7 linked regions of the Homo sapiens genome follow. The protein of the gene in region 1 interacts with the protein of each later gene in a biochemical or structural test. Each region holds a gene or a part of one and is shown in the gene's direction. Other genes may lie near its edges. The genes, in order: RB1, PRDM2, CCNA1, CDK14, RBBP7, RAF1 and LIN9.

Region 1 (3,500 bases):
ATTTTCATAAATAAACACTTTTGTTCAATTTAAAGTTAAAATGTGGTGTGTTTCTTTGGTCGGGGGAGAGGGATAGTGTGAGGTTAAGGAGAAGGAATGCTTATTTTAGATCACTATATACTGAAGAATGTAATTGGTCATTATAAGCCATTTAAGAGGCTTATTTGAGTTATTTGAGGCCATCTTGGGGATAATATTTCACTAGGCTTCTCTTCTGAGTATACTGGTATACTGAATCCAAAAAAGGTACTTTTTGAAATCCCTCCGAAGACCTTTGAGATTGTAGAGTGCCAAAGGAGTATTCAAGAGTGGCCTCTACTGATATGGAAGCACTGCTGTAACCTCCATGGTTATGAAACTAAAGATTGAAGCTAGAATCCACTGGATAAACAGAACAAAGGCCAATTACAATGTTTTTAAAAACATAAATGTATATCACTTTGCAAATTATGTTGCAAATGTTAAAAGAAAGTTTTGCTTGCAGAAACAAAAGGAACATTTGTATAAGGATGCAAAACACAGAAAAAGAGGAACTTTTAGTTTCCTTATTAGTAAACAGATAAGGAAAACTGTGAATCCTCATTTATAACCAAGAAATGCATATTTTAATGAGATACCATTTTGTAACTAATGAAATTAGCAGAATCTTGAAGAATCTGTCTATCCTCTTACCAAGGATTAATGAGAATTAAAATAGATATGCCAATGGCTGATAAGATACTAAACCTGTTCCTGATATAAGTTTAGGGTATTTAAATCTTTGAAAATTTGAGATCAGCTATAAGTCCTTTCTCTAGGAAAAACACAGATTTGCTTACACTCAAAATTGGAAGGCTATTTCCTATGAGTCCGTAGACTCCAAAATAAAAAATTCTGCTCTAAATAAAAATGGTTTAACCTTTCTACTGTTTTCTTTGTCTGATAATAACTTCCAAAAAAATACCTAGCTCAAGGGTTAATATTTCATAAATAGTTACTTTTTTTTTTCATTTTTAGGAAGTACATCTCAGAATCTTGATTCTGGAACAGATTTGTCTTTCCCATGGATTCTGAATGTGCTTAATTTAAAAGCCTTTGATTTTTACAAAGTGATCGAAAGTTTTATCAAAGCAGAAGGCAACTTGACAAGAGAAATGATAAAACATTTAGAACGATGTGAACATCGAATCATGGAATCCCTTGCATGGCTCTCAGTAAGTAGCTAAATAATTGAAGAAATTCATTCATGTGCATATGGCTAACAAATTATTGTTAGTGAGAGGTGTTTCTTAACATCTACCTCAAGAACATATAGGGAATTTAATGAATAATGTTATTTCAGTCTATAGCCCAAGGATCAAGTGGAATATTAGAATGGAGCTTTAATCGAGCACCCTAAACCATCTAATACAGCACAGTGATTTATTTAAGAATAGCTTTTCTTAAAACATGCCACTTTAAAACAAAACGGATTTTTTTTTTATACTTTAAGTTCTAGGGTACATGTGCACAACGTGCAGGTTTGTTACATATGTATACATGTGCCATATTGGTGTGCTGCACCCATTAACTTGTCATTTACATTAGATATATCTCCTAATGCTATCCCTCCCTCCTCTCCCTACCCCATGACAGGCCCCAGTGTGTGATGTTCCCCACCCTGTGTCCACGTGTTCTCATTGTTCATTTCCCACCTATGAGTGAGAACATGCAGTGTTTGGTTTTCTGTCTTGGCAATAGTTTGCTCAGAATGATGGTTTCCAGCTTCATCCATGTCCCTACAAAGGACATGAACTCATCCTTTTTTATGGCTGCATAGTATATATGTGCCACATATTCCATGGTATATATGTGCCACATTTTCTTACTCCAGTCTATTATTGTTGGACATTTGGGTTGCTTCCAAGTCTTTGCTATTGTGAATAGTGCCACAATAAACATACGTGTGCATGTGTCTTTATAGCAGCATGATTTATAATCCTTTGGGTATATACCCAGTAATGAGATGGCTGGGTCAAATGCTATTTTTGGTTTTAGATCCTTGAGGAATCGCCACACTGTTGAACTAGTTTACAGTCCCACCAACAGTGTAAAAGTGTTCCTATTTCTTCACATCCTCTCCAGCATCTGTTGTTTCCTGACTTTTTAATGATCGCCATTCTAACTGGTGTGAGATGGTATTTCATTGTGGTTTTGATTTGCATTTCTCTGATGGCCAGTGATGATGAGCATTTTTTCATGTGTCTTTTGGCTGCATAAATGTCTTCTTTTGAGAAGTGTCTGTTCATATCTTTCACCCACTTTTTGATGGGGTTGATTTTTTCTTGTAAATTTGTTTGAGTTCTTTGTAGATTCTGGATATTAGCCCTTTGTCAGATGGGTAGATTGTAAAAGTTTTCTCCCATTCTGTAGGTTGCCTGTTCACTCTGATCGTAGTTTCTTTTGCTGTGCAGAAGCTCTTTAGTTTAATTAGATCCCATTTGTCAATTTTGGCTTTTGTTGCTATTGCTTTTGGTGTTTTAGTCATGAAGTCCTTGCCCATGCCGATGTCCTGAATGGTATTGCCTAGGTTTTCTTCTAGGGTTTTTATGGTTTTAGGTCTAACATTTAAGTCTTTAATCCATCTTGAATTAATTTTTGTACAAGGTGTAAGGAAGGGATCCAGTTTCAGCTTTCTACATATGGCTGGCCAGTTTTCCCAGCACCATTTATTAAATAGGGAATCCTTTCTCCATTTCTTGTTTTTGTCAGGTTTGTCAAAGATCAGATGGTTGTAGATGTGTGGTATTATTTCTGAGGGCCCTGTTCTAAACCAAAACAGAATTCTTTAAAGTATTTAGATAATTTATTTAAAGTACAGTTGTTATATATTTGAAAATGCAAATGTCTGCTCTTAAATTGTGAGATTATGCTATTTAGATTATTAAAAAGTGCATTTTTTTCTTGTTAAATATAGTAGGATTCATTTTTTCCCATTATTAAAGTATAAAAATGTATACTATTGTTCAATTATAGGTATTGGTTCAATCAATATAGGGGCACAAATTATATTGTCTAGGATTCTCTTTATAGCATTATAACTATTGATAAGGCTTTTGTTTTAATAAAAGTGGCAACTTGAGGTTATGCTCTTCAAATCAACATAGTTGGATAATACTTTGTGAATCATCAGTTTTGTAAATTAATGGTTTCTTTTGAAACTGTGTTGCATGCTAAGTATATATCTTTTAATTTGTATCAGTATATAGAAGTGGTAATTAAAAAATTAAGACTTTAGGTATGCCATAATCCTAATTTGCACATGTAACCTTAGTTTTAATTTCCTTACGTTTTGAATTTTTAATGACTAAGCGATAATTTATTTCTTAGTGTTTTCTTGTATTGCCATATAGACAGAGTGAATAGAGGAGAGAAACATGGGAAATTGATAGAAGAATGTTACACTCCTATTATTGAATTTCATAACTACTTATGGAATGAATTTACACTTGATAAGGAGTACTTAGAAGAAAACTTTCTGA
Region 2 (4,194 bases), on another chromosome or scaffold:
CCACCACGCCTGGCTAATTTTTTGTATTTTTAGTAGAGACGGGGTTTCACTGTGTTAGCCAGGATGGTCTCGATCTCCTGACCTCGTGATCCACCCGCCTCGGCCTCCCAATGTGCTGGGATTACAGGCTGAGCCACCGCGCCCGGCCTAGCCTCATTCTTTTACAATAAGATAACATGATATATGTTGATACAACACGTTTTCTTTCTTTTTTGAGATGGAGTCTGTCTCTGTCGCCCAGGCTGGCGAGCAGTGGGGCGATCTTGGCTCACTGCAAGCTCCGTCTCCTGGGTTCACGCCATTCTCCTGCCTCAGCCTCCGGAGTAGCTGGGACTACAGGCACCCGCCACGTCGGCCGGCTAAATTTTTGTAGTTTTAGTAGAGACGGGGTTTCACCGTGTTAGCCAGGATGGTCTCGATCTCCTGACCTCGTGATCCACCTGCCTTGGCCTCCCAAAGTGCTGGGATTACAGGCGTGAGCCACTGCGCCCGGCCAACACGTTTTCTTAAGATTAAACCTGTTACATAAATGATCGTTCATAATTTTTGGAAGCACACCTGCCCTTAGTATCCTGTTTTTCCACTGGGTGCTTTCTGCAGATGGCCAACGTAGCCATCACATTCGGATTCTTCCTGACTTCATTCTCAGAGGATTACTTTATCTTGAAGTGCTGAAGGCTCCAGGCACCATCTATAACGACAACTCCCAACTTTCCAGCTCATCTCCAGCCTGTGCTTCTCCCCGACTCAACTCATTTTCAACCACGTGCTAGGCCTCCACCCTTGGATGTCGAAGAGCCATCTCCAGTTCCACCCAGTTCATCTTCATCAGAACATCTATGAGTCGTCGTCTCTGCAGTCCATTTGTTTGCCCGCTTGGGAACAGCAAGCTCCTTAAGGGCAGGACTACTACCGCGCTCTCAGAGGCGCTGCACTGGAACATCGCGGGCACAGGGCAGCGTTGGTCACTGCTCCTGGGTACTAGGGCAGCAAATAAACCCAGCAGCTGCGTCTGTCTGCCTGGAGTTGGATCTTTTTGGTATAGATCCAAACGTAGAAGTATAAGGTCTACGTTTATGTACTTGTCAGATATTTAATGACCTCCAACGATAGACATGCCCCCCCAACACCTCCTTCAGTCTTTTTGATTCTTTGAGAATCTTTGAACCACGCAGGATCCTAGCCCTAGGGTGCGGTCGGACTTGCCGCGACGCCAGCCGCCGGGGTTCCTTCCCGAGGCGCCGCCATGGGATCCGCGGTGACCTACGAGGGGCGGCTGGGTGGTGGCCATTGGGCGACGGCGCAGGGTCAAGGGCCGGGCTCTGGGATCGTGGGGAGACCGGGGGTCCCGGAGCCCCCCAGCCCCGCAGGCCACTGCCTCGCCGCCCGACGTCACTTCCGACTGGAGTCAAGATGGCGGCGGCGCGGCCGCGGGCGCCGGGGCCGGCGAAACAGCGGCGGCGGCGGCGGCCCTCGGTGCTCTGAGGCGCTGGCGCGGCGGGCGCGGGTAAGGAGTGGCGCGGGTGGGCGGCCTCTGGGCTCGCGCCGGGACGCTGGTCCCTCCCCCCGAGGAGCGCGGCGGCGACGGCGGCGGCGACACGCTGGGGACCCGGCGCCGCAGGGATGGCCGGGTCGGCGGACGCGCCCCCTCAGAGGTCCCGGGCGTGCCGGGGGCCCCGGGACGAGGCGCGGGCCTCCGGGTCGGTGGCCCCGCGGGTGGGTGGCGGCGCCGGGCTCCTCCTTGTCGGCCGTGGGGTCCCTGCGGCGAAGTTCGGGATTCGGTTTGTCGCCGTGAAGAGCCGCGCGCCCCGCGGGGGACGCGTGCGGGCTGCAGAGACTGGCCGGGTGCGGGCGGCGGTGGGGCCACCTGGGGCCCCACGTGGGGCCGGGCGCCGTCCCAATTGTCAAGCCGCTGTGCTTTTCTCTTTTGTGTTCCCACTGAGTGTGTCTTGCACATTTGCACTCCAAATTTGTTTTGTGTCTTGCGTCTTTGTGTTTCCCAAATAGTTTTTGTGTGGTTTTAACCTGGAGATTGTCTCCCTCAATGTTCCCATAGACCCACGGGTGTATGTGTGTGTGTGCGCACGCGCGCGTGTGTGTGTGTTACAGACGTGCAACTCTGTTACTAATTTTGCTAATAAAGCTATCAATGAACCTCTTTTGATGGTGGTAAGTGAGACATGAAGTAAACCTAACAGGTCAGTGTCATTCCCCAAACCTTCGTGGTTCTTTCGATCCACGCGTGAGCCACCGACCCTCCGGGCTTGTAGCTTTGTGTCGGGCTGTGAGCTGCGGCAAAGACCCCATAGTTAACCGGGAAGTCCTGATTTCCTTAACTACGCAGCTGAAATTTCCCCTAACAGAAATTTCGTGCTGGCCCCTCACTTTTCTTTTAGTGTTGTATTGAGATTTTGGGTGTATTTGAGACGTGGAACGTCTTTTGCTGAATCCCAGTAGGTCCTTAGATCCCTTTAACCAGACACTAGAAGAATCATTTTTACCCCAGAACTCGACTAAAATGTTTAAGTTTTTGTTTACTCCAGGTTTATTAAAAGTGACCGAAACTTTTAACAACAAATGGAACTCTTCAATGATTTCTTTTACAATGGTACACACTTCGCCTCGGTTTGATCAGTTGTGTCCAAGTATTAGAAAAATGTAGGCCTTTTAAAAAAAAACATGATAGGAAATTTACATATATTAAGGAGGAGGAACTGAGACACACTGTCATACGTTCTTTTTTAGTAGGGTTCTGTGTTTTTGAGATGGTCCAAACTGCCCCATCACTCTTGAGGCTTCCGGACTAACACTTATTGGCCAAATTTTTACATGTAGAATCTTAGTTTAGCCTTGAGATGACCTTTAAAGATCATTTTTATTAAACCCCCTCATTTCGAGCTATGGAAACAAATCAAAATTCACAGTGGAACTAAAACTCATTTACATTTTCTGTGATTCCAGGGCTCTTTTTACTCAACACATCTGTTTTGGTTTGATTGAAATAAGTTAATACATTTTAAGTGCTTAGAAAAGTGCCAGAACATGATAATACTGCTCAGTAAATGTTTGCTTTTGTTGATTCTGAAGGTGGTTTCTTTAATTGAAAGGTTGGTATGTTCAGGTTTGTTTTTTCCTTATTTTGTGGACAGGGCCTGAAACAGTACAGTTTAAATCTGTAAGAATGTATTAATTTTGTAAGTACAAAACATAACAAAAGATTCTCACTGTAGAAAATTGGAAAGTAGAGAAAAGCACAAAGAAGAAACAGAAATTGGGCATAACCTTCCCCTCTTCAGATAACCATTGTTAACGTTTGGCAGATCTTCCTGTCTCTCTTGGTGTGGATATGCGTATTTCTTTCCTTATTTTACAGTTCATTCACATATATATATATTTATTTACATTTTATACAGGATTGATAATATAGTGTGTATATTGTTTGCAACCTGTCTTGCCTTATGATACGGTGAGCATGTATCCATGCCACTAACTAGTCAATATTATGTTTAATGGCTATTTAATATGTGGATGGGCCGTAAGTTATCAATCAAGTCCATATTGATCTGTAAGGTTTCTCAAGCCTGAGTTTTCTTTTCATTAAGATTTGTTTGAAAGTTTTTTTAAAATCGTGGGTTTTAAAGTTCTGTAATCTTTTGAGATTACAGTGAAAAATATAAATTCTGCTTTTTAGCATCTAAATAAGCATTTTTCTTGCGGGTGCAGTCATAAGAAGTAACACTCAATTTCAGCTTCCTTTCTTCCGTTCTTGGCTGTGGCTGTGCAGTTATGTACATATATCTGCGCCTATTCTTTTGATGATTATTTTACGTTAGATGTTTATTTATTCATGAGACTGTTTCTTTAAGCAGCCTGTTTCTTTTCAAGTTCCAAACCTGATTTACAAACCCTTTTTAAGTCCTGTTAAATCATAGACTTTCCAGGATGGAAAGCACCTTAGGTTATTTACTATTTTCATGTCTTCTGAGTAGCTTTTCATGTTATTTTTAATACTCATGCAGAAAAAAAACCAAAACAGCGGACTTCTACTAGAAAACTCCATAATGGGGAGTGGAAGAGGAGGAGGTTGATGGTTGGGGGAAAATCGTCAAACTTGCATGACGATGGGTAGCTAAGGGAGTTTCCAGATGATGAGGGACATCACCTGACTGTCCTTACCACAGATAACTGCCGCCC
Region 3 (3,500 bases), about 12 Mb from region 1:
TTTTTTCCTTGAAATAATTTCTTCTCATTCAGCTTGTAGAACACCACTCTCTCCAAGTTTTCTACCTAGCTCATTGGCCACTGTTTGATATTCTAATTGTTACTTATATATATAGTCTGTACAAGTTAGAGTGCCCTAGGACCTAGTCTTTGATCTAAATCTTGCACTCACTCCCTTAGTAGCCTCTTAGTCTCCTAGCATTAAACACTCTCTATTTGGTGATGACTGATATTTCTATCTCTGGCCTGGGCCTCTGAGGTTTATTGCAGGCTCACATATTCAGGAGCCTACTTGGCATCTCCACTTAGGTCATATAATAAGCAACGTATAAAACGAAACACCCATCCTTTTCCCTACTCCCAGACTGCTCTTCCCAAGTCTTCCTTGTCTCAGTAAATGGAGTAGCCATCCTTTCTGTTATTTAGCCTCCAAACCTTTGTCTTCCTCGATTCTTATTTTTCTCTCACCCCACATCTAATCTTATGAGAAAATATTATTAACTCTACTTTTTAAATGTCTAGAACTATTTTGCTCTTCATGGTTTACAATTACTTCCCTGGTTCAAATCCCTATTGTGTCTCACTTAGAATTTTCAAGTTTTGTAATTGATTGGCTTACTTACTCTCCACCTGTGCACAGCCAGAATCATCCTTTTAAGAAATGAAAAGATTATGCCACTCCTTTGCCCAAAATTCCAGTGGCTCCTGTCTCTGAATAAAAGCCAATTCTTAGATCAGCCTTGGCAAGTGAACAAAAACAAAATAATAGTAATGAAAACTAATCCTTAATTGGCCTATGGTAAGTGCTTCATGATTGGCCTCTTTTTTCTTTCTGTCCTCATGGCCTATATGACTGTCTCACTCTGCTCTGTTTGCTCCTACTGTGTCTTTTCTAGTTTGTTTCAGTCTTCTTCCACAGACTAGAATATAAACTCCATCAAGGTAGTTCTTTTTAAACATTTTGTTCACTGCTAAATTCTGGGCACGAGAAAAGCTTCTAGCACATAGTAGATACTCAGTAAATATTTGTTTATTAAATATATGTCCCAGCCTATGGACACAGTATCTATGTAGCAAGAGTCAAACCTGGCAGTAACTTGGAGCTGTGGTTGTAGCAAGAGTCAAACTTCGCAGTAACTTGGTTATCTGGTTACAGTAACTTATGATTGTGACTCTTTGTTGTCTTTGTGATTTCCCCCCAATTACTACCATAAGTGTTCGTTTTCTTACAGACATAAGTCACCTATTTAACTTGATAAATAAAAGGGAGAGTTATGGAACCACCTACTAACTTAGAAGTAGCCTTCAACAGTACACACCAAGATACATTATAAACAAAATGTTAATGTGGTAGACAGAGCTGGCATTTGCGTAAATATAGCTCAGGTTCATAGAGCTGCCCACCTGCCCTGATTCAGCTGACATTCATGCCATCTGGCATGGCTCACCTTAATATGCAACAGTGTTTGATGCATTATGCTTGTTCACTGTGGCGGCACCACAGTTGTTCCCATTGTTCATGTTATAAGAATAGAGAAAAAGGAGAAGTGACTAAGAAATTTCCCCAAGAGTAAATGCATTATGTCATACGTAAAGGTTCTGTGGCTTGTAAGAGAATTTAGCAGCATCAGTTTCCAAAATCGTGTTTCTTAATAAGTGGATATAAAATGGAAACATTATAGGGGCCTTCTGGCTAAAAAGTTATTTATTTAAGGAGGGGAATTGTAGGAACTCAGTCACTGCATCAAGAGTTATGCTGACTACTTATAAAATCTCATGATGCTATAAATATGAAAGCCAATTTACAGTTTTCCCTTTATATGTGGTACCCATTTCATTTTGGAAGAGAGCTATAGGTTTTCTTTTTTCTACAATCTTGAGTTTCCTTTGATACATATGTGAGGTAGATTAAAATTTTAGGTAGCTCTTTCTCCAAATATCAAATGTAGACAAAGATAAGGGGGGAAAAATTACACTTTTGAAGACCTTTTTTTTTTGGAATTAAATTGCCGACATAGATTTTTCAGTTTAGAATGTATCTTACCTTCCCAGGCTGTTGGTTTGAGTCATGCAGGTTCACATTGCCTCTGTGGTCTTTGACGTGGCCTCTAACAAAAGATTTAAACGTTTTTTAGGGGATCACAAGAATCAGGTGTTATTCTGGATCAGAAAATGCCTTCCCTCCAGCTGGAAAGAAAGCACTCCCTGACTGTGGGGTCCAAGAGCCCCCCAAGCAAGGGTTTGACATCTACATGGATGAACTAGAGCAGGGGGACAGAGACAGCTGCTCGGTCAGAGAGGGGATGGCATTTGAGGATGTGTATGAAGTAGACACCGGCACACTCAAGTCAGACCTGCACTTCCTGCTGGATTTCAACACAGGTAACTGACTTGCCTATGGTTGATGGCTGATGGTACCCTGTATTTATAACTGCCTGCAGCATTCAATAGCTAGTAACTAGCAAGAGAAAAACAGCAAGTAATAACTGTATTCACAACTGCCTGTAGAGGGTTAGTGGATTGAACAAATGTTTAAATTAAATGAGTTATCTGACAGTGTTGAACTCTTGCAGTTTCCCCTATGCTGGTAGATTCATCTCTCCTCTCCCAGTCTGAAGATATATCCAGTCTTGGCACAGATGTGATAAATGTGACTGAATATGCTGAAGAAATTTATCAGTACCTTAGGGAAGCTGAAGTAAGTTTTCCCACCTTCTACTTCAATCTTCAGGACCCGAGCTCTTATTACTAAGATAAATTATAAACTCTTGGTCCATAACCACTAGTGAATGGCACTCTTATGCCAGCTAAACATAAGAATATCTATGAAAAATAATAGTTGTGATGGCAAGTCGCAATTGCTTGGACTATTTCTACATGATTCAAAGGGTTTATATGTTAAATATTTCACTCTTAGGAATAATTCATATTGCCATTCTCCCCTGCCCCCCCAACCCCAGGTTAATTTGCTAACCAATTACTTTACAGAACCAGAAATTTACACTTTCTTCCTTGTTATGATAAAGATTTATTTGGCTCTGATCAGAATCTTTCCAACCTTTGCTTGTGAGATTTTTAAATAGCAACTATATTGTGGAATGATCTTTCTGAAATTGCAACTACTAAATATCAAAACCTTTTCCCAATCAGATAAGGCACAGACCCAAAGCACACTACATGAAGAAGCAGCCAGACATCACGGAAGGCATGCGCACGATTCTGGTGGACTGGCTGGTGGAGGTTGGGGAAGAATATAAACTTCGAGCAGAGACCCTGTATCTGGCTGTCAACTTCCTGGACAGGTTCCTTTCATGTATGTCTGTTCTGAGAGGGAAACTGCAGCTCGTAGGAACAGCAGCTATGCTTTTGGCTTCGTAAGTGTTCTTTCAGCTTGCATAATATGAAACTATCACTTGTCAAAACATGGAATTTTTGTCCTCTATTTCTTATTGAAGAAATGCAATGCTTGATAATTAAAACTAGTCATGTGTCCTTTGATAA
Region 4 (3,500 bases), on another chromosome or scaffold:
TTCAGCATAGGGACTCTTGGTGAAGACCTAGTCGTTTTATTTAAGTACTCTCAAATGTCGCTGTCTCTTGATCTTGTTTTTGTTACTGGGTGTTTCTCACAAAATGGACTTACCCAATTTATTTTTTTTAGGACATATAAACCTAGCTGTCACTATTCTGAGATGATCAAGAAGGGACTGAGGACCCTTCAGTTCTCTATGCCAACTTTCTCATGATTTTTTTTTTTTTCATTCGGTATGACTCTTCAATCTGATATCCACTCTGCCTGGTATCCAAGCCCCAGTTGAATTCTCTGATTCAACCTCTTCAGAGAATAAATCTCTGGCGGGACTAGGAAGGGATAGGGGGCTGGCCGAGGGAGACTGGGGCAAAGACCTCCACCTTAAATTCACTCCAACTAATCATATCATTTGTAGCCCCAACTTGAACTTCAGCTTCCAGTTTGTGAGTATTTTTGGGATTCTGAAGTATGAATTGACTTATTTCTTACTGGCTTATGCCTTGGATCATGTAGGTATCAAGGTTTTTTTTTTTTTTTTTTTTTTTTTTTCCCCACTCATCCTAGGCAATGTGACTTCTCAACCATTTGTGTCCTGTCTTTACATTTTTATTTCTATCTCGTCTCTAGTGTTCTCTTTACTCATTTTGATTGCCCTTATGGGTTTTAATTTTAGTATTGTTTTAGTATGAATTGGTAAGGGGGAGAGATAAATACATGTTTTCAAGCCATCAAGTTTCACTGGAAGTTTTCACAGTTTCTCTATTGTATTTTTTAGTTTCTTTAGATCATCTTGGGCTTACCCTTTCCTGGTTCACCCTGGGATGACTTTTTTTAATATATATTAGGTCATTTATATTACTTTGTGTGGGAACTGCTTTGCTTTCTTTTTATTTTAGGAATTTTTGCTTCAATTCAATGTGCCCTGGAAAAATGTCTTTTCTCTTACCTTATCAAACTGGAAATGGCTTCGTTTTCTCTTTCAGCAGGATGCTATAATATCCTGTTTTTTTCTGAGTCCTTTCTGTTTGCTGCCCTTTTAAAAAATATATTTTTTCTTTTTTTAAAATTATACTTTAAGTTCTGGGGTACATGTGCAGAACATGCAGGTTTGTTACATAGGTATACACTTGCCATGGTGGATTGCTGCACTCGTCAACCTGTCATTTACATTAGATATTTCTCCTAATGCTATCCCTCCCCTAGCCCTGGTGTATGATGTTCCCCTCCCTGTGTCCATGTGTTCTCATTGTTTAACTCCCACTTATGAGTGAGAACATGTGGTGTTTGGTTTTCTGTTCTTCTCTTAGTTTGCTGAGAATGATGGTTTCCAGCTTCATCCATGTCCGCGCAGAGGACATGAACTCATCCTTTTTTATGGCTGCATAGTATTCCATGGTGTATATGTGCCACATTTTCTTAATTCAGTCTATCTTTGATGGGCATTTGGGTTGGTTTCAAGTCTTTGCTATTGTGAACTATGCTGCAGTAAACATACGTGTGCATGTGTCTTTATAGCAGAATGATTTACAATCCTTTGGGTATATACCCAGTAATGGGATTGCTGGGTCAAATGGTGTTTCTAGTTCTAGATCCTTGAGGAATTGCCACACTGTCTTCCACGATGATTGAACTAATTTACACTCCCACCAATAGTGTAAAAGCATTCCTATTTCTTCACAGCCTTTCCAGCATCTGTTGTTTCCTGATGTTTCAATGATCATCATTCTAACTGGCGTGAGATGGTATCTCATTGTGGTTTTGATTTGCATTTCTCTACTGACCAGTGATGATGAGCTTTTTTTCATGTTTGTTGGCTGCATAAATGTCTTCTTTTGAGAATTGTCTGTTCATATTCTTTGCCTACTTTTTGATGTTGTTTTCTTTTTTCTCTTGTAAATTTGTTTAAGTTCTTTGTAGATTCTGGATATTAGCCCTTTGTCAGATGGATAGATTATAAAAATTTTCTCCCATTCTGGAGTTTGCCTGTTCACTCTGATGATAGTTTCTTTTGCTGTGCAGGAGCTCTTTCGTTTAATTAGATCCCATTTGTCAATTTTGGCTTTTGTTGCCATTGCTTTTGGTGTTTTAGTCATGAAGTCTTTGCCCATGCCTGTGTCCTGAATGGTATTGCCAACGTTTTCTTCTAGGGTTTTTATGGTTTTAGGTCTTACATTTAAGTCTATAACCCATCTTGAGTTAATTTTGTATAAGGTGTAAGCAAGGGATCCAGTTTTGGCTTTTTACATATGGCTAGCCAGTTTTCCCAACACTATTTATTAAATAGGGAACCCTTTTCCTATTGCTTTGTTTTTGTCAGGTTTGTCAGAGATCAGATGGTTGTAGATGTGTGGTGTTATTTCTCAGGTCTCTGTTCTGTTCATTGGTCTATATATCTGTTTTTGTACCAGTACCATGCTGTTTTTGTTACTGTAGCCTTGTAGTATAGTTTGAAGTCAGGTAGTGTGATGCCTCCAGCTTTGTTCTTTTTGTTTAGGATTGTCTTGGCTATGCAGGCTCCATATGAAATTTAAAGTAGTTTTTTCCAGTTCTGTGAAGAAAGTCAATGATAGCTTGATGGGGATAGCATTGAATCTATAAATTACTTTAGGCAGTATGGCCATTTTCATGATATTGATTCTTCATATCCATGACCATGGAATGTTTTTCCATTTGTTTTTGTCCTCTTATTTCTTTCAGCAGTGGTTTGTAGTTCTTCTTGAAGAGGTCCTTCATATCCCTTGTAAGTTGGATTCCTAGGTATTTTATTCTCTTTGTAGCAATTGTGAATGGGAGTTCACTCATGATTTGGCTGTCTGTTTGTCTGTTATTGGTGTATAGGAATGCTTGTGATTTTTGCACATTGATTTTTTATCCTGAGACTTTGTTGAAGTTGCTTATCAGCTTAAGGAGATTTTGGGCTGAGATGATGGGGTTTTCTAAATATACAATCATGTCTCTGCAAACAGAGGCAATTTGACTTCCTGTTTTCCTAATTGAATACACTTTATTTCTTTCTCTTGCCTGATTGCCCTGGCCAGAACTTCCAATACTATGTTGAATAGGAGGGGTGAGAGAGGGCATCCTTGTCTTGTGCCGGTTTTCAAAGGGAATGCTTCCAGTTTTTGCTTATTCAGTATGATACTGGTTGTGGGTTTATCATAAATAGCTCTTATTATTTTGAGAAACATCCCATCAATACCTAGTTTCTTGAGAGTTTTTAGCATGAGGGGCTGTTGAATTTTGTCAAAGGCCCTTTCTGCATCTTTTGAGATAATCATGTGGTTTTTGTCCTTGGTTCCGTTTATGTGATGGATTACATTTATTGATTGGCTTATGTTCAACCAACCTTGCATTCCAGGGATGAAGCCGACTTGATCATGGTGGATAAGCTTTTTGATGGGCTGCTGGATTTGGTTTGCCAGTATTTTATTGAGAATTTTCTCATCCATGTTCATCAGGGATATTGGCTTGAAATTTTCTTTTTTTGTTGTGTCTCTG
Region 5 (3,500 bases), on another chromosome or scaffold:
GATACTGATGCAAAAATCACTGCTCGGACCAAGGTGCCAAGAGGTTTGGGCAAGTTCTTCAGCCTCAAGGTGTTTCCACAGAACAAGGTAACAAAGATACCTCGGTAAAATTGAGAATGTTCGTTTCATAAACTTAGGTATCATAAACGTCAGTGAGTTTCACATCATGCCATTTGCACTTATAGCCTATTTTATTCAGTGAAGAAACTGAGGCCCCAGGGAGGTTGTGTTTTAAGCAACTGCATTTTAGTTTGATCCAGGATTTAAGCTAAGTTTTTTTGATTCAACACTTTCTGTCCATACTACCTTGTAGAATTTCTTATTGGGAAATAAGAAACATCTAGTGTATAAGATATTTTTAGGTGGGAAGAAGATTTCTTTAGGTGGGAAGTTGTGATTTATGAGTGTGGGGATTGTTGGTGGATTCCTGTGTAGATGTTTGTCTGTGTTTACTGAGTTGGGCCTACCTTCCCCGGAGTGCTGCTCTATAAAAGGTAGTGTTCACGCTGATAATTGAGGCACAGGAGGATGGCTCTTTGGGAAAGAAGCAAGCCCTCTGCATGTTGTAGCTAGAATATTTTCTTATATTTGCATATGTGGGGATTGTAAAGTTGGTAACCAGAGGGGGAGAAGATACACAGTTGATGCTAAGTATATATTTGCTAAAGAAATATGAATGTATTTTGAGGGAACTAGACTGAATTTGTTAGCAATTGGAGATTTCTTGTAGGATTAGTGTGACTTATTTTCTTTCTTAAACAGACCTGAAGGAAAAGATTATGCCCTTCATTGGCTAGTGCTGGGGACTCATACGTCTGATGAGCAGAATCATCTGGTGGTTGCTCGAGTACATATTCCCAATGATGATGCACAGTTTGATGCTTCCCATTGTGACAGTGACAAGGGTGGTAGGTATATCATATATTCCAATATTGGTGTCAAAGGGAAAATGTCTCTTTCAAAGCATATGCTATTAAAACTATACTATTAGCTTTTGGCCCAGTAATTTAACTTCTAGGACTTTATTCTACAGAACTTCCCACCCACATGTGCACAAGGATTTTAGTCGTAATTGCAGAATTGAAAAATTAGGATCAACCTTGTAACCCAGATGTTGGTTCATAGAAAGTTGGTTAAGCACATGGTATGTTTGAAATACTACTCAGCAATTAATAAGAAAGGCCAGGTGCCATGGCTCACGCCTATAATCCCAGCACTTTGGGAGGCCAAGGTGGGAGGATTGCTTGAACTCAGGAGTTCAAGCCCAGTCTGAAAAACACAGACCTCATTTCTACCAAAAATTTAAAAAAAAAATTTTTTTTTTTAATGAGAAAAATCTGTAGGCACTGGTATAGGAAGGTATCCAAGATAAATTAAGTGACTAACTGCTATGTGTAATTACAGTATTCCACTTTGGTAAAAGTAATATGTGTTGGTGTGTGCAATGGGTATTTTTTGTTTGAGGAGAGAGGCAGTAGTGGTAGGGTTAATTCAGGAATCTGTTGGCTGCTTTTTTCTTTTTTTAATTTGTCAAACATATACTCTCCTGTTTTGGTATTCCCATGACCACCCCAAGTTTGGTGATTTTGCTAGGACTCCCAAGAGCAAATTATACTTGTGGCTAAAGTTTGTTACAGTAAAGAACACAAAAGCAGCAGGAAAAAGATGTACATCGGCAAGTTCAGGGAGGTCTGGCACAAGTCTTGTCCAAGGCCACACAGGATGTGTCTTCCGGCAGCAAACTGCAGGGACATGTGTGAAATATCTCTGCTCAGGGAAGCCTGTTTGGGTCTTGGGGTCTGAGGCTTTCTTGGGGGACTAGTTGCATAGGCACATCCTGCTGACAACCAGCCACAGCAACTGTAACTTGAGGACCCCAGTAATACAAACTGAGGACCCAGTAATAAAAGAAGGTACGTGTCATCAATCTTGATATCTGCAGAGTAACCCTGACAAACTGGTACAACGCGGTCCATTGCTCCAGGTGCACACCACAAAATCATCAGTTCATCAGTGACAGAAAGAACATTCTGAGGTGCATGTTCCCAGGAGTTAGCCAAGGGTCAGTAATAGGGTCCCAGTGTTCCTCAGAGACTCCAGGGCTAAGCACCCAGACTGCTGTATTAACTCTTTCTTCACAGTCCCAAATGGCTTAACGCTATTAGCACTTTCTAATATGTGCCTTAGGGTTTTTTTCTTATTGAAAATAAAATACTGGCCAGGTGCAGTGGCTATACCCATAGTCCCAACACTTCGGGAGGCCAAGGCAGGAGGAACGCTTGAGCCTGGGAGTTTAAGACCACTCAGGGCACACAGTGAGACATTGTCTCTATCAAAAAATAAAATTAAAAATCAGCCATGTGTGGTGGCGCATGCCTGTAGTCCTAGCTACTTGGGAGGCTGAGGATCGCTTGAGCCCAGGAGTTCGAAGCTGTAGTGAACTAGGATCACACCACTGCACTCCACCCTGAGCAACAGAGCAAGATCCTGTCTCAAAAATACTACATTCTCTAGTGTAGTGAAACTGCTAGGTTGTATGGTGTATTCATTGTCAACTTCATAGAAAACTATTTTCCAAAGTGATTTACCCAGTTTACTACTCCCACAATTTACTGTTCATTCCCCGACAACTGTATGCATTATTTCTTTAAATATTGGGGTTTTTTTGTGTTTTGTTTTTGTTTGTTATGAGGCAGGGTCTCGCTCAGTCGCCCAGGCTGGAGTGCAGTGGTGCAATCTCGGCTCACTGCAACCTCCACCTCCTGGGTTCAAGTGATTCTCGTACCTCAGCCTCAAGAGTAGCTGGGATTACAGGCGTCCACCACCATGCCCGGCTAATTTTTGTATTTTTAGTAGAGACTGGGTTTTGTCATGTTGGCCAGGCAGGTCTCGAACTCCTGGCCTCAAGTGATTCGCCTGCCTAAACTTCCCAAAGTGCTGGAATTACAGGCATGAGCCACCACTCCCGGCCTGAATATATTGTAATCAGAAATTTTTAAATGGCTTTTAGCCCTGAAGTATGTATTTACCGGGCTTGCAGTTTAACAGTCTCTGCATAATGATGTTAATATATTATTAAAGTTACACATCCAGTGTATTCTAACAAGTAGCTGAAATAATTCAGTTAATACCTTTGTTAATATTCAGTATATATATTTTTTTTTTCTTTTTTTTTTTCTTTTTTTTTTCGAGACGAAGTTTCGCTCTGTCACCCAGGCTGGAGTGCAGTGGTGTGACCTCAGCTCACTGCAACCTCTGCCTCCTGGGTTCAAGCGATTTCCCGAGTAGCTGGGACTACAGGCGCCCGCCACCACACCTAGCTGATTTTTTGTATTTTTAGTAGAGACGGGGTTTCACCTTGTTAGCCAGGATGGTCTTGCTTTCCTGACCTCATGATCCGCACGCCTTGGCCTCCCAAAGTGCCGGGATTACAGGCATGAGCCACCACGCCCGGCCAATATTGAGTTACATTTTTTAATGGATATTATCATTAAGACAGT
Region 6 (3,500 bases), on another chromosome or scaffold:
TTTCCAAGGGGTGCTGCAGCCTGTGTTGGTCCTAAAGGTGGTCCTTTGTTTGTAGGTCAATGTGCGAAATGGAATGAGCTTGCATGACTGCCTTATGAAAGCACTCAAGGTGAGGGGCCTGCAACCAGAGTGCTGTGCAGTGTTCAGACTTCTCCACGAACACAAAGGGTAAGAGCTCAAAAGTCAATTGACTTCTTCAGACTAGTAAGGATCTTCTAGCTTCAAATAGCTATGTTTGTATTAAATTGTACTAGCTTCCTATAGAATATTGTATATTTCTATACCTTTCTTTATAAAGAGATAATTCAGAAAAATAGGTATTAAGAAATTGAAATTATTGCTTGGACATTCTCTTGAAAAGTTAAATACACGTTAAGCTGGGCCTGATGACCAATACCTGTAATTTTTTTTTCTTTTTGAGGTGGAGTCTTGCTCTGTCGCCCAGGCTGGAGTGCAGTGGCGCGATCTCGGCTCACCGCAAGCTCCGCCTCCCGGGTTCACGCCATTTTCCTGCCTCAGCCTCCGGAGTAGCTGGGACTACAGGCGCCCACCACCGCGCCCGGCTAATTTTTTGTATTTTTAGTAGAGACGGGGTTTCACCGTGTTAGCCAGGATGGTAATACCCGTAATTTTAACACTGGGAAACTGAGGCAAGAGGGTTGCTTGAGGCCAAGAGTTCAAGACCAGCCTGGGCACATAGCGAAGGCCCATCTCTACAAAAGATTTTTAAAAATTAGCCAGGCATGGTGGTGCGGCCCTGTAGTCCTAGCTGTTCGAAAGGCTGACGTGAGAATATTGCATGACCCCAGGGGCTTGAGGCTGCAGTGAGTCATGATTGTGCTACTGGACTCCAGCCTGGGCTGGAGCAAGATCCTGTCTATTAAAAAAAGCCAAAAAACAAAAAAACAAAAACAAACACATGTTAGGTATTGATAATGTTTCCATGGATGGAAACAGTGATGTTAGATGCTGTGTTTTTTTGAGACAAAGATTTTTCTTTGTGTTTACTCTAATGCATTATATAGACTGGGCACTCAGAAAGTGCATTATTTTATATAAAGAATGCTATCCTCGGGAGATTGACTTTTCTCATTCACTAATTTTTTTTTTTATTCAGTTAAATGTGTACTAATCCCTGCTGTTTGATAGATTGTTTAAAGATGCAGAAGCATTTCTGCTTCAGGGAAGATTCATGGTTTATCCTATTCCTAATGGTGGTGGCAAGATAGAGGCATCCCCTCAAAGGCTAGGAGTAATACCTCAAAGCAGCAGAGCTGTCCATAATTATCCATTATCCATTATTCCCTCCACCCCGAAAATATAGGGAAACCTTTAAAGGGTTCTTTTTTACCCTCTTCTTGGAAAGCGTCACTTATGTTATTCATCGTTAGCTTACATTTTTTCATGTTTCAAAGAGTTCTGCAGTTTGGGAGAATAGCCCAGGGAATGAATCTACTCGAAGGGGTGAGTGTAATTCTCAATTTAGGAGGCGTTTGTTGAAGTGCAAATCTTTGAAGCAGACGTTAACTTTTGCTGAAGGTAGCCCAGGTTGGGTCCCTAAGCCAATCCATAGTGTTCCTTAAGGACTAGAGAGATTCTGAGACAGGGAGGGCTTGGTCTACTCTCATCCAAGGCTGCACTGGTTTGGAGCTACTCTGGAGTCTCTAGGACAGACAGCAGATTGTCACTAGGATCAGTCTGCAGATTGATGAGAAAATAAGGCTTGTCCTCCTTCTCTTCATAAGGGCAAAATAGTCCTTTGGAGTTATAGGAAGTTTTCCAGGTGCTGTATAGGTAATTATATTAAGGAATGTATTGTTTACTGTTGGATAGTGAGAAAAATGGCTTGACTAGGCTTCTGGTAGATAATGGAGAGGCTTGAATGGTGCTATACATGTTATTTTCTCTTTACCTGAGAATATTCTTCCTTTGGAAAATGGGCCAGATTAACTGGATAAAACATAAGAAAGGAATTGGGCATTACTTTTTACTTATGTATCTATTTTTTGTCTTATTTATACTGTAGGCACAGAAAGTGTGGTTTCAGAGTAGATTTTAAGACAGTTAAGTTTCTCATTGACTTATAGACCCTACAACTACAGATTTGAGTCTGTTATTAATTAATAGAAAAGTACATTTTTCATTTGTGGTTCCTTTCTATTTATCTAGATTGAAATAGGCTACTGAAGACTAAATTTTGTACTGCAGCAATATTTATAATCCATTTTACAGGATTTGGGGATTTTTGTAAGATTTTAGTGTTACAAATTCCAATTTAACGTATATTGACTTTATTGTGAGATTTTATATATCATTGTTTAAAGAAAACTTTATTCTGGCCAGACATGGTGGTTCACACCTGTAATCCCAGCACTTTGGGAGGCTGAGGCAGGAGGACCGCTTGAGGCCAGGGATTCAAGACCAGCCTGGGCAACACAGCAAGACTCTCTCTCTACCAAAAAACATTTTTTTAAGTAAATAAAGAGAAAACTTTATTCTGAGAACATGGGCTTTGGAGTTCAACAGACCTAGATTCCAACATAGGCCCTTAAACTTGCTGTGTGGCCTTGAGCAAATTACCTTCTTAGAGTCCCAGTTTTCTTATTTTTCAGATAGAAATAATACCTACTTCATAGGTTTGTTGTATGAATTAAATAAATTATTGTTGTATGGATTAAATAAAGTTGTGTTTATATGGCATGTGATAAATGGTAGCTGTTGTTATTTCTATTGAACTTTGATCTTGTTTAAACATTTCATGTTTTTTTTAAATCCTTTCTAGTAAAAAAGCACGCTTAGATTGGAATACTGATGCTGCGTCTTTGATTGGAGAAGAACTTCAAGTAGATTTCCTGGATCATGTTCCCCTCACAACACACAACTTTGTAAGTTGCAGATCTCTTCTCTTTCTGGCATGTTGAGGGCTTTGCCAGGCATAACAGAGATTTCTCAGGTAATATGCGTATGTATATATATATATAGTTGGATTGTTTAAAGTTCTTTATGCTGTTGTTTACAGTAAGGCAATTTAGATTTCATTAGTCAGAGATATACTCTAATTTGTGATTATGAATTCTGTACATGCTGGAAGTATGATTCATTTTGTAAAAACTTTTTTGGAGGCCAAGAAATGAAGTTGTCTTTTGTCATCTTTTATTTATTCAGCATAATTTACACCTGTGTTCTTGTTGTAGGCTCGGAAGACGTTCCTGAAGCTTGCCTTCTGTGACATCTGTCAGAAATTCCTGCTCAATGGATTTCGATGTCAGACTTGTGGCTACAAATTTCATGAGCACTGTAGCACCAAAGTACCTACTATGTGTGTGGACTGGAGTAACATCAGACAACTCTTGTAAGGCATTGTTCTTTTATCCAAGGAAGATAGGGATGAGGAGTATACATACTTTAAAGGGTATTTGTTGTAGATTTTGACTGACAGGTCTGGATTCTAGACTCATTTAATGAATTGTGATCCAGAAACTACTTTAGAAACAGTGATA
Region 7 (2,754 bases), on another chromosome or scaffold:
AAAGGATACAGTTATTCATTGAAGCATTATTGGTAATTAAAAAATATTAGAAATAAACATAAATGCCCACACATAGGGAACTGACTATTTATGGTACATCCACACAATTGAATACTATGCTGCTGTAAGAGAGGAAGTTCTCTATTTACTGACACAGAGTGATTTCCAGGATATGTTATTAGATGCAAAAAGCAAATACGAAAATACACATACATATTCCAAAGTATAACCTTTGGAGTAGGAAATAAGTGGAAATACAATGTATATGTATCAGCTTAATTTTTCAAAAGGAAGCAGAAAGGATACATTAGAAACTAATTTGGGAATGGGGTAGGAGTTGGTGAGCAAGAAGGAATGACATTTTTCTGAGTGTTTGTTTCCCCAACAAATACAAGTAAATGCAAACAGAAATAAATGAACCTAACTATATTTCAAAGGAGTGACATAAACTTACTGAAGGGGATAAAAACTGATTCAGATAGCTTGAACATAGCATAGGTTGAGCATCCCAAGTCTGAAATGCTCCAAAGTCCAAAATTTTTTGAGTGCCAAAGTGAAACTCAAAGGAAATGCTCCCTGGAGCAGTTTGGATTTTGGAGTTTTGTATTTGGGATTCTCAACCGGTAAGTATAATGCAAATATTCTAAAATTTTAAAAAATCCTAAATCCAAAACACTTCTGGTCCCAAGCATTTTGGATAAGGGATACTCAACTTATATTTTGACTGTATACCTTTAGTCTGAACCAAAATTTAAATAAACATTGAACTCTAGTTAGTAGAATTTTTTCTCTTGGTGGCATGCATAGCAGTCCTGAAACTCTTTTTTTTTTTTTTTTTTTTTGAGACGGATTTTCGCTCTTGTCCACCAGGCTGGAGTACAGGGGCGCAATCTCGGTTCACTGCAACCTCTGCCTCCGGGGTTCAAGCGATTCTCCTGCCTCAGCCTCCCCAGTAGCTATGATTACAGGCATGTACCACCATGCCCAGCTAATTTTTATATTTTTAGTAGAGACATGTTGGCCAGGCTGGTCTTGAACTCCTGACCTCAGGTGATCCACCCACCTCGGCCTCCCAAAGTACTGGGATTACAGGCATGAGCCACCACACCCAGCAGCAGTTCTGAAACTCTTACTGTGTACTCTAGGACTGAGCAAAGAAGCAAATAAGTATATTGAACCTGGGAGGCAGAGGTTGCAGTGAGCTGAGATCGCACCACTGCACTCCAGCCTGGGCAACAGAGTGAGACTGTCTCAAAAAAAAAAAAAAAAAATTTAGGATAACGCGAGCCAGGTTTCTCACTGTTGAAGAAGGCAGTTATGAAGAGGGGGAAGACTAGAGTGAACCCTGTGGCATTAGATGGGAATAGGGGGAATCAGTATGAATTCATGGTTTATTTTATCTTTATGCTATATGTATAAGTGAGTGTATATGTCTGCTGAGAGAGCCAAAAGCAAAGACACCCTAATAGCAAAGAACACACTAGACCCAGATCTTGGTCTCTTATCTCTGTTCTCCAATTTAAAAAAGCAGGACTTCTTGAAAAAGAGACTGATTCCAGACCTGAGGCAGAGAAAGAAGATGAGCCCGGCCCACCTTATTATGCCAAGGAAGTAAAATGTGCCCCCAAATTACGGGGACGTGTCAAAAAGGGCCAGCTTGACAGGGTTCCCACTGGCCAAATCTGGGACAATTTGAGCTTCAGAATAAATAAATATAGTAAGAGATTATAACCCATAGAATAAAAGTTATGTCAGTATGGGTTCATACTGATACTAGTTCATTTTTTAAGGGAAACTACTTTGTAGTAAAATGCCAACTAATAAATATAGAAGCAGTGTTAAGAGTGAGAAAAACACCATTTTGCAACCATCATAGTAATAATTGATATAGACAAGAATCATCAACAGATGCTAAAATTGGTAGGTAAAAGTTTGATGACAAATAGGATGTTTACATAGCCTCAAAGTATCTCTTCACAACTACTTAGTACTTACAAAAAGGAAATCCTTTACTGTAGGGAAATCTGGCAGACACTTAACTTACCAATTGATCAAAGAGAACATCACCAGTAATGGGACAGGTCAACATCACGTGCCTTCTAATAAAGATGCCAGAGAACTCAGCACCACATTTGTAGTATTTCTGCCCAAAAATGCATAACTTCAGTCTAATCATAAGGAAACAAACAAACCCACATTGGGGGATATTACACAAAATAATTGGCTCGTACTCTTCAAAAATACCAAGGAAATACAAACTGGAGTGATTAGAGGTAATGAGGCACAGTGTTTGCAACTTATTCTTAAATTAGTAACGGGAAGAATTATACATTCACAGAGATCAAATGGCAGATCAAATGTAGTAAAACATAAACAGTAAATCTGAGTAAATGTTATCAAGAGTTCTTTGTTTTATTCTTTTAACTTTTTTTAGAAGTTTGAAATTATATCAAAATTAAAAATTACAAAAAATAGAAAATCAGAAACTGTTAAAGGAAAAAAACTTCTAAGGTAAGAGTACCACTTTAGTTTTAAATGCTAGTTTTATAAAAATTAAAATCTGAAAAGAGGGCACAAACACATACAGAAATAATCATGGCTTCTCGAACATGCGTCTCATGCTTCAATCATCTGTATTCAGCTTGCTCCAGACCAGGGGCTCCAGCCTGCAGATCAGCCAACAGATATGAGACGCAGGTGTGAGGAAGAAGCACAGGAAATTGTTCGGCATGCAAATTCCTCAACAGGACAGCC

What was found.
Region 2: the proteins of RB1 (region 1) and PRDM2 form a complex in vitro, tested with the Homo sapiens proteins (2 studies listed by BioGRID, with this or other methods).
Region 3: the proteins of RB1 (region 1) and CCNA1 form a complex in vitro, tested with the Homo sapiens proteins (2 studies listed by BioGRID, with this or other methods).
Region 4: of the proteins of RB1 (region 1) and CDK14, one has a biochemical effect on the other in vitro, tested with the Homo sapiens proteins (2 studies listed by BioGRID).
Region 5: the proteins of RB1 (region 1) and RBBP7 form a complex in vitro, tested with the Homo sapiens proteins (3 studies listed by BioGRID).
Region 6: the proteins of RB1 (region 1) and RAF1 form a complex in vitro, tested with the Homo sapiens proteins (3 studies listed by BioGRID, with this or other methods).
Region 7: the proteins of RB1 (region 1) and LIN9 form a complex in vitro, tested with the Homo sapiens proteins (2 studies listed by BioGRID).

What each region holds. Positions count from the first base shown.
Region 1 is NC_000013.11:48,380,251-48,383,750, forward strand, and holds part of RB1 (retinoblastoma-associated protein), read left to right. Parts: intron 1-996; coding exon 997-1,193; coding exon of another isoform or gene 1,194-1,205; exon of another isoform or gene 1,206-3,500. UniProt on the Homo sapiens protein: Tumor suppressor that is a key regulator of the G1/S transition of the cell cycle. The hypophosphorylated form binds transcription regulators of the E2F family, preventing transcription of E2F-responsive genes.
Region 2 is NC_000001.11:13,698,794-13,702,987, forward strand, and holds the start of PRDM2 (PR domain zinc finger protein 2), read left to right. Parts: upstream 1-1,394; 5' UTR 1,395-1,507; intron 1,508-4,194. UniProt on the Homo sapiens protein: S-adenosyl-L-methionine-dependent histone methyltransferase that specifically methylates 'Lys-9' of histone H3. May function as a DNA-binding transcription factor.
Region 3 is NC_000013.11:36,435,495-36,438,994, forward strand, and holds part of CCNA1 (cyclin-A1), read left to right. Parts: intron 1-2,134; coding exon 2,135-2,381; intron 2,382-2,572; coding exon 2,573-2,697; intron 2,698-3,149; coding exon 3,150-3,373; intron 3,374-3,500. UniProt on the Homo sapiens protein: May be involved in the control of the cell cycle at the G1/S (start) and G2/M (mitosis) transitions. May primarily function in the control of the germline meiotic cell cycle and additionally in the control of mitotic cell cycle in some somatic cells.
Region 4 is NC_000007.14:90,728,821-90,732,320, forward strand, and holds part of CDK14 (cyclin-dependent kinase 14), read left to right. Parts: intron 1-3,500. UniProt on the Homo sapiens protein: Serine/threonine-protein kinase involved in the control of the eukaryotic cell cycle, whose activity is controlled by an associated cyclin.
Region 5 is NC_000023.11:16,860,363-16,863,862, reverse strand, and holds part of RBBP7 (histone-binding protein RBBP7), read left to right. Parts: intron 1-762; coding exon 763-908; intron 909-3,500. UniProt on the Homo sapiens protein: Core histone-binding subunit that may target chromatin remodeling factors, histone acetyltransferases and histone deacetylases to their histone substrates in a manner that is regulated by nucleosomal DNA.
Region 6 is NC_000003.12:12,608,618-12,612,117, reverse strand, and holds part of RAF1 (RAF proto-oncogene serine/threonine-protein kinase), read left to right. Parts: intron 1-55; coding exon 56-168; intron 169-2,782; coding exon 2,783-2,885; intron 2,886-3,194; coding exon 3,195-3,352; intron 3,353-3,500. UniProt on the Homo sapiens protein: Serine/threonine-protein kinase that acts as a regulatory link between the membrane-associated Ras GTPases and the MAPK/ERK cascade, and this critical regulatory link functions as a switch determining cell fate decisions including proliferation, differentiation, apoptosis, survival and oncogenic transformation.
Region 7 is NC_000001.11:226,233,411-226,236,164, reverse strand, and holds part of LIN9 (protein lin-9 homolog), read left to right. Parts: intron 1-2,641; coding exon 2,642-2,754. UniProt on the Homo sapiens protein: Acts as a tumor suppressor. Inhibits DNA synthesis. Its ability to inhibit oncogenic transformation is mediated through its association with RB1. Plays a role in the expression of genes required for the G1/S transition.